Linked DNA regions of Homo sapiens: region 2 is linked to region 1. The links come from fine-mapping of genetic effects on gene expression. Tissue or cell type: whole blood. Region 1 holds a variant in brackets; the other region holds the start of a gene. All regions are shown on one strand. Distances are from middle to middle.

Region 1 (8,078 bases):
TCTAGCTAATCCAGTAAGCTGAGAAAAGGAAATAAAAGACGTGTAGATTGGAAAGGAAGAAATAAAATCCTATTTGCAGATGACATGATTGTCCGTGTAGAAAATCCCAAGGGATCTACAGAAAACTTGGAGAACTAATAACTGAATTCCCCAGGGTCACAAGATACAAGGGATACAAGGTAAACATGCAGAAATCCATTTTATTTCTATATGCCATTAATGAGTACCTAGACACAAATTAAAAATACATTACCATTTATCATCACTCAATAAAAAAAGGAATACTTAGGTATAAATCCAACAAAACATTTACAGGACTTATATACCAAAAACTATAAAACACTGACGAAAGTAATGAAGGAAGACCTAAATAAGTAGACATATCATATTCATGGATTAAAAGACTCAAGATGATGTCAGTTTTCCCCAAATTGATATACAGATTTAATGCAATTTCTGTGAAAATCCCAGCAAGATTTTTTTTGTAGATAAGATGGTTCTAAGATTTATATGGAAAGGCAAAGAAACTAAAATAGCTAAAGCAATTTATTTATTATTATTATTATTTTTTTTTGAGATGGAGTTTTGCTCTTTTGCCCAGGCTGGAGTGCAGTGGCATGATCTCTGCTCACTGTAACCTCCACCTTCCGGTTTCAAGCGTTTCTCCTGCCTTAGTCTCCCGAGTAGGTGGGATTACAGGTGCCCGCCACCATGCCTGGCTAATTTTTGTATTTTTAGTAGAGACAGGGTATTACCATGTTGGCCAGGTTGGTCTCAAACTCCTGAGCTCAGGCAGTCCGCCTGTCTCAGCCTCCCAAAGTGCTGGGATTACAGGCATGAGCCACCACACCCGGCCAGCAATTTTGAAAAACAGTAAAGTGGGAGTAATCATTCTACCCAATCTCAAGGCTTACTATATAGCTACGATAATCAAGGCTGTGTGGTATTGGTGGAGTGACATACCGTGATGGAACAGAATTGAGAATCCAGAAACAGACCCACACAAACGTGCCCTCCTGATTTTTACAAAGATGCAAATGTGATTCAATGGAGGAAAGACAGCTCATTCAACAAAATGGCACTGGAGCAATTAGACAATCATAGGCAAGTAGGCTGGCACAGTGGCTTACGTCTGTAATCCTAGCACTTCGGGAGGCTGAGGTGGGCAGATCACCTGAGATCACGAGTTCGAGACCAGCCTGACCAAGATGGAGAAACCTCGTCTCTACTAAAAATACACAATTAGCTGGGCGTGGTGGCGCATGCCTGTAACCCCAGCTACTCGGGCGGGTGAGGCAGGAGAATCGCTTGAACCTGGAAGGCAGAGGTTGCTGTGAGCCGAGATCACGCTGTTGCAATCCATCCTGGGCAACAAGAGTGAAACTCTGTCCCAAAAAAGCAACAACAACAAAAAAGGCTGGGCACAGTGGCTCACGCCTGTAATCCCAGCACTTTGGGAGGCTGAGGTGGGCGGATCACCTGAGGTCAGGAGTTTGAGACCAGCTTGACCAACGTGGAGAAACCTCGTCTCTACTAAAAATACAAAATTAGCCGGGCATGGTGGCGCATGCCTGTAATTCCAGCTACTTGGGAGGCTGAGTCAGGAGAATTGCTTGAACCCAGGAGGCCGAGGTTGCTGTGAGCCAAGATCACGCCGTTGCGCTCCAGCCTGGGCAACAAGAGCAAAACTCCGTCTCAAAAAAAAAAAAAAAAGGCAAAAGACAGGAAGAGAAATTTCACTAAAGAAGTTATATAGGTGGCAAATAAACATTGAAAAGCTTTTCCACATTGTTAGCCTTAGGGAAATGCAGATTAAAATTACACTGTTATTCCACATCTTTAAAAAGTGGTGACAGCATCAGATGCTGGCGAGGATGTGGAGGAACTGGGTCACTCACAAGCTGCTGATGGGAATGTAAAGTGGCTGGAAAACTGCCCTAGAAAACAGTGTGGCAATTTCTGTTAAAAACTAAACATGCGGCCAGGCGTGGTGGCTCACACCTGTAATCCCAGCACTTTGGGAGGCCGAGGCGGGCGGATCACGAGGTCAGGAGATCGAGACCATCCTGGTTAACATGGTGAAACCCTGTCTCTTCTAAAAATACAAAAAATTAGCTGGGCGTGGTGGTGGCTGCTTGTAGTCCCAGCTACTCGGGAGGCTGAAGCAGGAGAATGGCGTGAACCCGGGAGGCGGAGCTTGCAGTGAGCCGATATAGCGCCACTGCACTCCATCCTGGGCGACAGAGCGAGACTCCGTCTCAAAACAAACAAAAAACTAAACATGCAACCAGTGTACCTTGAGCATTTATCCTGGAGAAATGAAGACATGTTTATACAATAGCCTACACGTGGATGTTCATAGCAGCTTTATTTATAATAGCGGGAAACTGGAAATGATCTAGATAGCCTTCAGTGAGTGAATAGTTAAAGTGAGGCCCCTTCGTACCACAGAATGTCACTTGGCAGTAAAAGGAAGTGACAATCTGGATGAATCACTGGATACAGATACAGTCCTCTATCTTGTCTTTTTTGGAGGAAACTGGGCGCAGTGTGCATGGAATTTCTCTGTGTTGTTTCTTGCATCTGTACATGAATCTACAATTACTTAAAAATTTTAAAATGCTCTGGGCAGTGTATTCACTGGGTGTTTACCCCGTGCACCTGAGGTTCCTGCTGTTGCTGCCCCGCAGGCTGTTAGGATGCTGGTCTCCAGCGTGTCTTTAGGGCAGGGAGGAGATAGTGGGGCTGTGGTCTGTTAGGCCGACCTGCTTCTTGATGATGGAATCCTACTGTCTGCTCTGAGGCAATTTTTCTTGGCTTTTTCAGCTTATTCCTGCAAGGCGTCTTGTCAGTACGGTCTGGGTGGAGCAGGGAGAGAATGTTGACTGAGAGGACCTTGCTGAGGTCTGGCTGGCCACAGATGGTCCCTGTGAGCTCCCATCTGGTACAATTCCTTTTCCAGGATCCGGGATCTGTAGGGACCTCCACGCTTGTGACCTTGTTGAGGCCCTGCTGCTGCTACTGCAGTCACAGGCCTGGAAATCGCTGTGGCTTGGCACAGTGTGTTTTGCTCACATGAGGCCTGGTATTGGGCCAGCCTCTGTGCCATCACGTCTGCCACCAGTTCAGCACAGAGGGGAGTAGAGAGATGGCACGCAAGCTTTGATGTGCCTTTGCTGGCCTCGCCTGGATCATCTCATTAGTTGGGATAATCTCATGCGCCCACCCAGCTATGAGTGGAATGAGGGAAGTGTTTATGGCCATGACCACCCCCAGGGCATGGAGCAGGAGGTCTGTGCAGGATGAGGGCTGGGGGCCTGCTAGTCATGTGCTTCCTCCTTCCACTCCCAGTTTCCAGGAAGGCCACCCCCAGTGCCCTGGTTGTCCTCTCCTGCATCCGGAGATGTTTGGCTTCAAAGAAGAAGGGGTGAGGGAGGC[C/A]GGTCCATGCCCAAGCATGGTGCAATCTCTTGGCATCCCTTCCCTCTCCTGATTTCAGAGAAGTTGATGACGCCTGAGATGTTTTCAGAAATCCTCTGTGACGATCTGGATTTGAACCCGCTGACGTTTGTGCCAGCCATCGCCTCTGCCATCAGACAGCAGATCGAGTCCTACCCCACGGACAGCATCCTGGAGGACCAGTCAGACCAGCGCGTCATCATCAAGGTAGGTGACTTCTCACCCAGCACTGGAGCCTTCCTGGCCCTCAGGGTGGGTGTCATCATGGAGCACTGAGGGTACACCAAGGCCTCAGCAGAAGCCCGTCTTTGGGTTCCATATCATCTGGAAAGTCATAACACCTGGCTTTGCTCCCTGCAATCCCCCAGGAAGGGCATAGGCTGAGTTCTCATAGTAAAGTGTTATATTCCGGACACATTCAGGGGGTGTCTCTGAGGCACTGCCAGGCTCTGAGCAAAGCCCGGAGGTCTAGAGGAGGTGAAGGCAGCTGATTGGCTGGGCCAGGCTGAGTGCTCCAGGGGGGCCTAGTAACCCAATAAGATGCTGCCTTAGTGGCCATATTACAGGTGAAGAGGTGGGCACGTGGAGAGCTGAGATCACCTGCGGAAGTTGCAAACTGGCCAGTTGAGAAATGGTGAGGCTGGCGATTGGGCGCAGGCCTGCACCCTGCAGAGCCTATAGCATAATCCTTGCTGTGCTGAGCCGCCACTGCCAGACTATGCCTTGAGGGTGAGGGGAGCTTTGAAAATAGGAAGATATGAGAAGTAGGTGAAATTGGCACATGTGATGACCCTAAAAAGGTCAGTGGTTTGGTTAGATCTGATGCTGTGCCTTTGGCTTCCATTTTAGGAAAACATTGATGTATAAAAATAAGAGCCATGTTACAAAGGGTTCCTGAAAATAGTCTTTGGGGTCGAGGAGCCTCGGGAGGGATGCCTCCTGTGACTGAGGGATGCCTCTGCCCCGTGCACCAGATGGAGCCTGGGCCGACTTCTTCCCACTGTGGTTCTCCGTGGCACTTTACTAAGATTTTGGAAAATAACGTGGGGGAATCACCAGCAACTTCCTCTGTGGTCCCCCAAGTAACAAACAACTAAATATCTTATTTAGTTAGTCAAGACAGTCTCACTGTGTCGCCCAGGCTGGAGTGCAGTGGCTCGATCTTGACTCATTGCAACCTCCACCTCCCGGGTTCAAGCAATTCTCCTGTCTCAGCCTCCTGAGTAGCTAGGATTACAGTTGCCCGCCACTAAGCCAGGCTAATTTTTGTATTTTTAGTAGAGACAGGGTTTCACCATATTTGTCAGTCTGGTCTCAAACTCCTTACCTCAGGTGATCCACCCACCTCAGCCTCCCAAAGTGCTGGGATTACAGGCATGAGCCACCGCACCTGGCCGAAATACTTTGGGTGTGTGTGTGTGTGTGTGTGTGTGTGTGTGTGTGTGTCGCAGTCTCACTCTGTCGCCCAGGCTGGCTTGCAGTGTGCGATCTCAGCTCACTGCAAGCTCCGCCTCCTGGGTTCACACCATTCTCCTACCTCAGCCTCCCAAGTAGCTGGGACTACAGGCGCTTGCCACCACGCCTGGCTAATTTTTTGTATTTTTTATAGCAGAGACTGGGTTTCACCGCGTTAGCCAGGATGGTCTCGATCTCTGGACCTCGTGATCTGCCCACCTCGACCTCCCAGAGTGCTGGGATTACAGGCATGAGCCACCACACCTGGCCAATACTTTGTTTTCTTGATTAATATTTTAAAATTGTGGTAACATTCATAACATAAAATTTACCATTTTAACCACTTAAGTGTAAATTCAGTGGCAGTATATTCACATCCATGGCTGTGTAATTATCACCACCATCCATCTCCAGAATTCTATCATCATGTAAAACTGAAACTGTCCATCAAACACTAACTCCCCATTCCCCCTCCCCCCACCCCTGGCAAGCACCATTCTGCTTTCTGTCTCTATGAATTTGACTACTCGAGGTGTCTCATTTACATTCCTAAGGGAATCATGCAGTATTTGTCCTTTTGTGACTGGCTTATTTCACTTAGCAGAATGTCTTCAAGGTTCATTTATGTTGCACCATGTCAGAATTTCCTTCCCTTTTTAAAATGTATTTATTTTTAGACAGGGTCTTACTCTGTTGCCCAGGCTGGAGTGCAGTGGCGCAGTTATGGCTCACTGCAACCTCTGCTTCCTGGGCTCAAGTGATCCACCCGGTGCAGCCTCCTGAGTAGCTGGGAAGCTAGGACTACCGGCACACTCCACCACACCCGACTGATTTTTTGTATTTTTTTTGTAGAGATGGGGTTTCGCCATGTTGCCCAGGCTGGTCTCAAACTCCTGGGCTCAAGCCATCTGCCCACCTGAGCCTCCCAAAGTGCTGGGATTACAGGCGTGAGCCACTGCGCCCAGCCTCCTTTCTTATTAAGGCTAAATAATATTCTGTTGTATGGATCTATCACATTTTTATTTATTCATCCCTAAATGGACAGACACTTGGGTTGCTTCCACATTTTGGCTATTGTGAATAATGCTGCTATGAACCTGGGTGTGCAGGTATCTGTTGGTGTCCCTGTTTTCATTTATTCATTCATTCATTCATTCATTCATTTAGATGGAGTCTCACTCTGTTGCTCAGGCTGGAGTGCAGTGGCGCGATCTTGGCTCATGGCACTCCTGCCTCCCAGGTTCAAGCAATCTCCTGCTTCAGCTTCCTGAGTAGCTGGGATTACTGGCACCCACCACCATGCCCAGCTAATTTTTTTGGATTTTTAATAGAGACCGGGTTTCACCATGTTGGCCAGCCTGGTCTCAAACTCCGCCTCAGCCTCCCAAACTCAAATGATCTGCCCACCTCGGCCTCCTAAAGTGCTGGGATTATAGGTGTGAGCCCCTGTGTCTGGCCCCTGCTTTCATTTCTTTTGGGTGTATACCTAGAAATGGAATTCCTGGATCGTACAGTAATTCCATGTTTAGTTTTTTGAGGATCCACTATACTGCCTTTCTCGGTGGCTGCACCTTTTATATTCCTACCAGCAAGGCGCAGGGGTTCCAGTTTCTCCACATCCTCACTCACACTTGTTAGTTTTTCTTTTCTTTTCTTTTTCTAGACAGAGTCTCGCTCTGTTACCCAGGCTGGAGTGCAGTGGCATGATCTTGGCTCACTGCAACTTCCACCTCCTGGATTCAAGCGATTTTCCTGCTTCAGCCTCTCGAGGAGGAGCTGGGACTACAGGCGCATGCCACCACGCCCGGCTAAATTTTGTACTTTTAGTAGAGACGGGGTCTCATCATATTGACCAGGCTGGTCTCGAACTCCCGACCACAGGTGATCCACCTGCCTTGGCCTCCCAAAGGATTATAGACGTGAGCCACTGTGCCCGGCCAGTTTGCCAGCATTTTTTTGAGGATTTTTGCATCAACATTCATAAGGGGTGTAGGTCTGTAGTTTTCCTTTCTTGTAGTATTTTTTGTCTGACTTAGGTATCAGGGCAATGAGTTAAAGAATAGTTTGAGAAGGATTGGTGTTAGCTCCTATTTAAATGTTTGGTAGATGGCCGGGTGCAGTGGCTCACGCCTGTAATCCCAGCACTTTGGGAGACCGAGGCGGGCGGATCACCTGAGGTCGGGAGTTAGAGACTACCTGACCAACATGGTGAAACCCCGTCTCTACTAAAAATACAAAAATTAGCCGGGTATGGTGGCACACACCTGTAATCCCAGCTACTCAGGAGGCTGAGGCAAGAGAATTGCTTGAGCCCGGGAGGCGGAGGTTGCAGTGAGCCGAGATGGTGCCACTGCAGTCCAGCCTGGCTGACAGCGAGACTCTGACTCAGTCAGTCAATCAGTGTTTGGTAGAATTCACCAATGAAGCCATCAGGTCTAAGGCTTTTCTTTGTCAGGAAGATTTTATTATTGATTCAGTCTCTTTACTTGTTAATACCTTTTTGAGAGGAATACAAATTTGTTTCAGTTTCACATTATGGCCAGCTAGGAGGAAAAGAAGGGACAATGGTAGGAGAGAAGTGGGGTGGGGATGGGAGTGGCAGCAAGCACCTGGCCTGTGTCCTGCATACGGTCTGCTGGCTCTGGAGGGCAGCCCTGAGGGCTCCACTCTGTGCTTCTCTTTGTCTTGTAAACATGTGGAGGATGAGGCTGTGTGGGCTAACCCACCCAGCCACGTGGTTCCAAATGACTGGGATTGGCCACACAAGGGGCCTCATGAAGCCTGACTGGTAGCTTCCCTTAACGTTTTTCTCAGAATTGAGCCCATTTTCATTGTTGTTGTCTTGACGGGGCCTGCAGAGGAGCCATACAGGAAGTTGCCCAGCAGCTGTAATCCTCCTGGGGCTGTTCCCTGCCCCACCAGAAGAGGCTTCCCCAGTGACCCTCTGACTTACCTGTGATTCCCACCTGGGGGATGGTGGCAGCTGGCAGGTTGAGAGACTGTCCCCAGCCAGGTGTCCTGCTCTGCCCTTTGGGTCAGACCAGATGTCACAGGGTGGACACAGCTGGCCCAGGGAAGCCTGTGTTATGTGGGACAGACTGCATTTTTCAGGCCAGAGGCCTCCTGGGCACCGTGACCCTGGGAACAGTGTCCTGTCTTGCCCATGA
Region 2 (8,078 bases), 50 kb before region 1:
AGGGAAAACCCGAGCTGAGTCCTGCTCATTCACAAGGGTTCCTCTCGGCCAGAGACCGCCGCATTACCCTGGAGCAGGTTTTTAAGCCGCACAATCTCTTCGCCATTCAATCCGTGATCCTCAAGCTTCAGCGTGCATCAGACACCTGAAACTCTAGCCACAGTTGCAGGGTCCCCGTGCCTCTGGCTGGAGGCGGGTCGGCCCTGTGCGGTAGCGGAAGGGAAGAGAGGAGCCGGTGGGTGCGGAGGGCGGGGACTGGCTGGGTCCCGTGGGGGCGGGTCCCGGGAGGAGGCTGGGCTGGCGCCCACTTCGTGCTTTGCAGGACTCAAGAGACCAACACTTGGGAGTCACCACACATGGGAGAAAAGTCACCACACATGGGAGATGGATGGAGGGTTCTCCAAGGCAGTTTAAGCAACAGATGTTGGAGCTGTTATGCCCGGGGCACAGTCTTAGCCCATAGGCCCAGTCGCAGCTCTGGGAAAGGGAGAGATGGGAGGGAGAGACAGAGGACCCCGATTTGGAGGAAGGTAAGAGATCTCACAGGCTCACCTTTGCCCCTCTCCACAGCTGGCTGCTCGGTGCTGGTGAACACCTCTTGCAGGCTGGTGAACCTCACCGCCCACCTGAGGCAGAAAGCAGGGTTGCCCCCAGATGGTGAGGAGACAGGGAGGAGAAGGAGGGGCTGAGGGGTCCCAGGCAGGGGTGCCAGCCCTGCCCAGTCTCTCTCCATGTCCTCCCAGCGACCATTGCTCTCCTGGCTGAGGATGGCAACCTAGTGAGCCTGGAGGAGGACCTGAAGGAAGGGGCTTCCCGGGCCCAGACCATGGGCAACTCCCTACTGAAGGAGCGAGCCATATATGTCCTCGTTCGGATCATCAGTAAGGTGGCCCAAGGTTCTCTCCCCTGCAGCTATGGTAGAATGTAAGAGGGGGGCATAGCAGACCATAGACCACCCAAGGCCCTGTCCGGCCTCCCACCTCGGCTGGGGACCTAGCCCCAATCCATCCCTACCCAATGCTCTGCTCCCAGCCTGGACTAGCAAACAGTTCCAGAGTGAGAGGCAGAGTAGGGACCATTAGGCCAGTCAGGTGTCCTTCATCGTCTCTCCACATGTCACAGAGGGAGAGGACATGGCCTCCACCCGCTATGAGTCCCTATTGGAGAACCTGGATGACCATTACCCAGAGCTGGCAGGTGAGTGTCAGGGTACAGCCCAGGGGGAGGGCACACCTTCTCCCTAACCCCTACCAACAGGACTTCCTGGGCCTTCCAGAGGAACTGCGCAGGCTGTCAGGCCTCTCCTCTGTGGGCCACAACTGGAGGAAGCGTATGGGCACTCGGCGAGGCCGCCATGAGCAAAGCCCCACTTCAAGGCCCAGAAAGGTGAGCTCCCTGCCACCCAGGAGTTGCTAGCTGGGGCAGGGAGCCAGGTACAGAGCAGATTTGGACATCCACAGAGACACCCAGAGTGGGATCCCTTCCTGCAGGACAGACACATATGATGAGGGGCAGACCCTCAACACCAACTCCACGCACATATACCCCCAGATGGAACACACTGTACCCTGAGACAGGTCCCCACCACCCCACGGGAGTGCCAGCGCACTAAGGGCCGGAATGTCCTCAGGCTTCACAGATGTGGCATAGGGGCTGGCACACAGTAGGAGCTCAGTGCACAACTGCTGGATGAACTCAATGAAGGCGGCAGCATGGTGTGTGATGGCACGGCCCACACTGGGTTTGAAGGGCTTGTTCTTCCATTCTGGCAGGCTTGGGGACCTGGCACACTACTGCCAACTAGCCAAGTTGGACTCAGACCCAAGGGGGTTAGCCATGACCTCTGCCTTGTGTGATCAGGTGCAAACAGACAACAACCCAGCAGGACTCCTCTTGCAGAATCTGGAATTGCTGAGAAGTTGCATCAGCAAGAGGGGCAAGGTCAGACAGGATTTGAGGCCGCCAGGGGCACCTAAGCTGTGGGTGCAGAGAATGGGATGCAGAGGTAGAGACAAGAAGGGTAGAGGTGGCAGGTATCCCTGATAAGGGGGAGACCATGGGTTCATCCTGGGATTCCACCCTCAGAGTCAGATGCCCTTGGGATCACCGACTAATGCCTCTCCACCTCACTCTGGACTGCCCAAGGAATCTGTCCTGTGCTACCCACAGTGCAGATTGCAACAGGGCTCCTCCTCCCCACCCAGGGCCCTGATTAAGGGGATGGATTGCACACTGTAGTGAGACATCCATCCTGACCCCACCTCATCAGCCAGGGAGCTCCCTGAAGACAGGCCATCGAGAGAGGCACACAACAGGCTGTGGTCTAAAATAAACTTTTAATTGCACATTTGTGTCTTGGGTTATCTGTGGGGTGAGAAACCTCCTCACTTCCAATCCCAGCTATCTGGGTACAATCTGGTGTTGTGGTCTGGCTGTCGGCGAGGGGTAGAGGTGGGTGCAGGACTGGCCCCCGAGTCTGCACCGACCTCTTCAGGGCAGGGAGCTCAGACCTGGGAAGGGAGGGGCAGCACAGGCTGGTGGTCAGCCTGCAGGTGCAAGAGGAGGGTTGGCCTCTCCCCCTCCCCGCCTGAGTCGGGGTCCACTCACTCACCATGGTAGTACTTGCACTGCTTCAGGGCCTCGCTGAAGCCCTCACACAGGGACAGGTCACTCTGAGTGGTGGAACAGTCCAGGAACTGCCTGATCTCGTAGGCGCAGGGCCCCATCTGCAGGGGCTGGGGGGCAGCGGGGGTGGGGGCCTGGGGGTACAGTGCAAGAGGCTGCAGGATCAGCTTGGAGTTGGCACCTGGAGGTGCGTTTCAAACCTGGGGCCACCTGCCCCTCCCCACATCCCCAGCCTGGGTGTCCCAAGGGTCCTAGGCAGGCTGAGTGATCCAGCAGCAGAGGCGGCTACAGACAGCATGTTTCTGCTGCCTTTTTTTTTTTTTTTTTTTGAGACAGAGTCTCACTCTGTCACCTAGAGTGGAGTGCAGCGGCGCAGTCTCGGCTCACTGCAACCTCCGCCTCCCGGGTTCAAGTGGTTGTCCTGCCTTGGCCTCCCAAGTAGCTGGGGCTACAGGCGCCCGCCACCATGCCCAACAAATTTTTTGTATTTTTAGTAGAGAGGGGGTTTCACTATGTTGGCCAGGCTGGTATCGAACTCCTGAACTCATGATCCACCCGCCTTGGCCTCCCAAAGTGCTGGGATTACAGGCATGAGCCACTGCGCCTGGCCTCTGCTGCCTTCTAATGGGCACTTTGGGCGGGTGCAGGAGAGGGAGGAGAAGGCTCTAGGAAAGCCCAGTACTCTGCCTGTACTCTCAGAGTATGAGCCCCACCCCCACAAGTTCTAGCACCTTCCTGGCTCAGCTACACTAATCCTCATGACCCCTGACCTAGCCACAAAGCCACATTTGGCTTACGGCGGTGGGGTTCCTAGCAGGGGAAAGGTCATCAGGGAAGTGGCTCCCCTTCGCCCTTGCGCCCAGCGGCCACAGTGCCCAGACCTGGGTGTGGGGAGAACAGGGGCTCAGGAAATCCAACATCCCTCCCCTCTGCTAGGGTGAGGTGACCTTGGGCGAGTCTCTGAGCCCTCAGGGCCTGGGTTTCCCATCTTTAAAGGGCTGGTTGGTGTCTCTCCCTGGGAGCTTAGGGACCCTGGCCTCAAGGGAGAGGCCGGGAAGCCTGCCTCTAAGTGACAGTGAACTCAAGACCAGTGGACTAGGACCCTTCCCGGGCAGAGTCCTGGGCTGAAGCAATGGTGAATACACGCGGACACTCCTCACTGGACACTTGGGCAGCTCCCTGTGTGGCCTCGAGATAATCCTGCCTCAGTTTCTCTTGGACTCGCTGCTCACCTGCTGGACAGCAGGCTGGGAGGGCTCCGAGCTCCCCCCGCTGAAGGCTCCGGTCAGGGCGCTGCCCATGACGTGTCCCACAGCCGAGCCCACGGCTACCCCTGCGGCCGTGGTCGCCATCTGAGCCATGAGCCCCGGCTGGCCCGAAGGGGCGGGGGCTGGGGCGGCTGCCGAGGGCGGTGGGTGCGCGGGCGGGTGGGCAGAGGGCGCGGCTGGGCGGCTGCGGGGGTGGGAGGAAGCAGGGTTAATCCTGGCCAGACCCCAGGCTGGAGGGCTGCAGCTCCTGGAAACGACCCCCGGAGAGATGGACGACCCACGTCTCCACACGTGGGTGCTGCACCCCCACCCCTCCCCCCGCCAAGATGGCGCAGCAGCAGCCAAGGTCACTCTGCGGACGCCCTTAGGGGAGTGCCCACACTTCCCTAACCCCCTCCCCACAGGGCCCTTGTCCCCCTCACACCTGGCTGGCCGGGAGGCCGCGCTGCGGCTTCCCCGAGGCATGGTGGCGGCGGTGGGACCCGGGCGACCTTAGAGACGGCGGCAGCGGTGCTGTCGCGGGGACAAATGCCGCAGCGCTTGTCACAGCCGGCGCAAAAAAGGCGGGGCCCCGGGCGGGGCCTCAGGAACACGCCCCCAGCGGGAGGCGGCACTGCCCCCAACCCTATCCCCCTTCTCCCGTCCTCCGGACATCTCCCTTCCAGCAGCTCCGGGTCTCGGCTGGAAATGGGACCCTGCTCCCTCCCTGCGCCTGGCAGGCTGTGCGGGTTCTGGGGACAGGGGCCAGTGTCGCAAAGCGCCGAGGGCTTAAGGAGGGCGACAGTGCCTTCTGTTAGGACCACCGCAGAGGGCAGGGAGCGGAGTTGGGGGTTGTTGCGAGCCCTGGAGGGGAGAGGAGACGGGGAGGCGACGGGATGGGGCCAGCTGGGAAGGGGACGCGAGGCTCCAGGCTGGACTCCGCTCTCTGCCCCCTCCCGGACTCGGCTGTCTGTCCCCTCCCTCCAGACAGGGTCTGCTGACCACCGCGTGGCCTGGGAGTCTCCGGTGGCCTAGGGAAGTGAAGCGCGGCCCTGGGGAAGGCCTGGAGCAACCCATCCCCAGAACTCCCACGAGGGGGCGTCCCAACCCGTCTTCGACTGTTGGCCAAAATGCGCTGCCAATGCTGGCAGCCTTACGCAGTGCCCGCGGGGGATATGAGGCCCCCCGCGCGGCCCTGAACCCCACCGGATTCCCCGGGCCGGCCCGACCGCCCCCACCTAGTCCCTGGCCCCGCGAGTGCAACCCCCGACACTAACGGCCTTTACGCGACATCCGAGCAGCGTGTCTATCCCAAAGGCCTAGGAGCATTTGCCCGGCTCGGTCAAATCTAGCGCAAGTTTGAAGCCTGCGGCCTCGCAATTTTAGCAGCTTCGTTCCAGGCCAGGTGAGCTGGAGCGCGGATTTAGAATGCTTTCCTGCTCTTCGAGAACTTGAGGTTTTAATTTTACTTTTTACTTTTTTTTTTTTGACACGGAGCCTTGCTCTGTCGCCCAGGTTGGAGTGCAGTGGCGATCTCGGCTCACTGCAACCTCCACCTCCCGGATTCAAGCAATTCTCCTGCCTCAGCCTCCTGAGTAGCTGGGACTACAGGCTCGTGCCACCACACCTGGCTAATTTTTGTATTTTTAGTAGAGACGGGGTTTCACCATGTTGGCCAAACTGGTCTCCAACTCCTGAGCTCATGATCCTCCTACCTCAGCCTCCCAAAGTGCTGGGATTACAAGCATGAGCCATCGCGCCCGGCTGAGCTTGAGGTTTTTATGGTCTTTTCTGGGTGACTTTGCAGTGGTCATATTATTACTCCTAGGTGGGGGAAGGTAGGGACTGTCCCTCATCACTGCTGTGCCTGCAGAGGACTCCTGACACCGGGATTGTCGGCAGGGTGCAACCAAGAGCAAAAGCACCCAGAAGTGGGGGTGTGGGTCACCAAGTAAGAGAGGAGGCCCCTCCATAAGGAAGGAGCAGGTCAAGGGGCAAGGGGAGTGGTGGCTGGGGCGTTTGGCCCTGCCTGGCATGCTCAATTCTGTGTGTGCACAGCTGTCCCCAGCCATGCATGCTCTCCATGGAAGTCAGGTGCAGCCCTGTGTTCTCTCACACTGCAGTCCTTTCAGCCAGCCTGTGAACAGGGCCCTTCCCCGCCCTGTCTTCAGTTTCTCCTCTCTGAAGGGGGGTGACCACCCACCTTGAGGGTGGCCTCCCAGTGAGGTGAGCACACCAAGGGTGGGCCATTCTTTCCTGGCAGACTCACCAGGCCTGGTCCAGCCGCTACTCCCTTGTTCATGCAGTCCATGCCACCTGGTTCCTGTTTGCCACACCAAACAAACTGAACACTTCTCATGGTGGTCCCCGGGCCTAAACTGCAGAGAGTTGTTACTTCAGCTCCCATGGCTGATGGACTGCAGGTTCCACAAAGCATGGCCTTGCACCTCGGAGGCACCCAAGACCACTTAAGTGGGTTACACAAATGAAAATGAGGCTGAAAGGATGACACTGAAGCAGGCATTGAAATGCCAACTTTTTTTTTTTTTTTTTTTTGAAACGGAGTCTTGCTCTGTCGCTCAGGCTGGAGTGCAGTGGTATGATCTCCACTCACTGCAACTTCTGCCTCCTGGGTTCAAGCGATTCTCTTGCCTCAGCCTCCCGAGTATCTGGGACCACAGGCACATGCCACCATGCCCCGCTAATTGTTTGTTTTTTGTTGTTTTTTTGTTTTTGTTTTTGTTTTTTTAAACAGAGTCTCACTCTGTTGCCAGGCTGGAGTGCGGTGGTGTGATCTCAGCTTACTGCAACCTCCACCTCCCGGGTTCAAGTGATTCTCCTGCTTCAGCTTCCCAAGTAGCTGGGACTACAGGCACGTGCCACCATGCCCAGCTAATTTTTTTTTGTATTTTTAGTAGAGACAGGGTTTCACCATGTTGGCCAGGATGGTCTCTTGTGATCCGCCTGCCTCAGCCTCCCAAAGTGCTGGGATTACAGGCATGAGCCACCACGCCTGGCCTGAAATGCCTACTTTTTAAAAATGAGTCACTTTAGCGGGGAATAGTGGCTCATGTCTATATCCCAGAACTTTGTGAGTCCCAGGCAGGCAGATTGCTTGAGTCCAGGAGTTCGAGACCAGCCTGGCCAACATGGTGAAACCCTGTCTCTACAAAAAATACAAAAATTAGCAGGGCATAGTGATGCACACCGGTAGTCCCAGCTACTTGGGAGGCTGAGGCAGGAGGATCGTTTGAGCCTGGAAGGCGGAGGTTGCAGTGAGCCAAGATCACACCATTGAGCAAGACCCTGTCTCAAAATAATAAAAGTAAATAAAAGTGAGTGACTTTAAAGAAAAGATTGCCTTTCAGGCGCGGTGGCTCACGCCTGTAATCCCAGCACTTTGGGAGGCCGAGGCGGGTGGATCACCTGAGGTCAGGAGTTCAAGACCAGCCTGGCCAACACGGTGAAACCCCATCTCTACTAAAAATATAAAAAATTAGCTGGGCATGGTGGCGGGCGCCTGTAGTCCCAGCTACTCGGGAGACTGAGGCAGGAGAATGGCATGAACCTGGGAGGCGGAGCTTGCAGTGAGCCGAGATCGCGTCACTGCACTCCAGCCTGGGCGACAGAGAGAGACTCCGTCTCAAAAAAAAAAAAAAAAAAAAGAAAAGATTACGAACAGTGTAGGTTGTAAAAATTACTGCTGTCTTACTTCTCCTCGCCCTCTAGGAGTCTCTGTGGAGTCTTCTTGAATAAGCTGTGAAACATTTCCCCACCCGCTTCCCTTTCTTGGCCCAGGCTTCCTGACCACAGCCTCACCTTTGAGCAGCTCAGAGCCCTGCCTGCCAGGATGCGAGCCACTGCCTGGATCGTGGCTCTGCAGGGCCACCCATGATGGAACAGGTCGCCTGGTGAGGTGGTGAGGCCCTTCATCATTTCAGGGGGTGTACAGCAGTACTGGGTAACCCCGAAAATCAGGGATGAGACTGAAGGATCCCTTCCAGAATGTGGACACAACCCCTCCTTTGAGTCTCACCTCCTTTCCTTCTTTTTTTTGAGATGGAGTCTCGCTCTGTCACCCAGGCTGGAGTGCAATGGAACAATCTCGGCTCACTGCAACCTCCGCCTCCCGGGTTCAAGTGATTCTCCTGCTTCAGCCTCCTGAGTAGCTGGGCTTACAGGTGTGTGCCACCACACCTGGCTAAT

What was found. PIP is the estimated chance that this variant, and not a neighbour inherited with it, causes the effect.
Region 2: CHCHD10 starts here. The variant in region 1 is fine-mapped to the expression of CHCHD10 in whole blood (TOPMed, PIP above 0.99).

Annotation. Positions count from the first base shown.
Region 1 is chr22:23,813,274-23,821,351 of GRCh38, forward strand. It overlaps SMARCB1 (SWI/SNF related BAF chromatin remodeling complex subunit B1), which reads left to right. Exons shown (of 9, transcript NM_003073.5): 6 at 3,497-3,663. Among named protein-coding and RNA genes, the nearest start is that of DERL3, 22 kb to the right of the region's middle. RefSeq lists enhancers at 2,657-3,158, 3,159-3,660. The variant C/A (reference allele first, on the strand shown) is at 3,439.
Region 2 is chr22:23,763,517-23,771,594 of GRCh38, forward strand. It overlaps CHCHD10 (coiled-coil-helix-coiled-coil-helix domain containing 10), which reads right to left and starts at 4,456. Exons shown (of 4, transcript NM_213720.3): 1 at 4,318-4,456; 2 at 3,858-4,077; 3 at 2,612-2,759; 4 at 2,318-2,510. The coding sequence starts at 4,358. The coding sequence ends at 2,491. It overlaps C22orf15 (chromosome 22 open reading frame 15), which reads left to right. Exons shown (of 6, transcript NM_182520.3): 2 at 571-657; 3 at 744-881; 4 at 1,123-1,197; 5 at 1,277-1,386; 6 at 2,205-2,347. The coding sequence ends at 2,216. LOC107985577 (a long non-coding RNA gene) reads left to right here and starts at 4,710. Exons shown (of 3, transcript XR_007068022.1): 1 at 4,710-5,277; 2 at 7,671-7,791. RefSeq lists enhancers at 1,994-2,793, 2,794-3,593.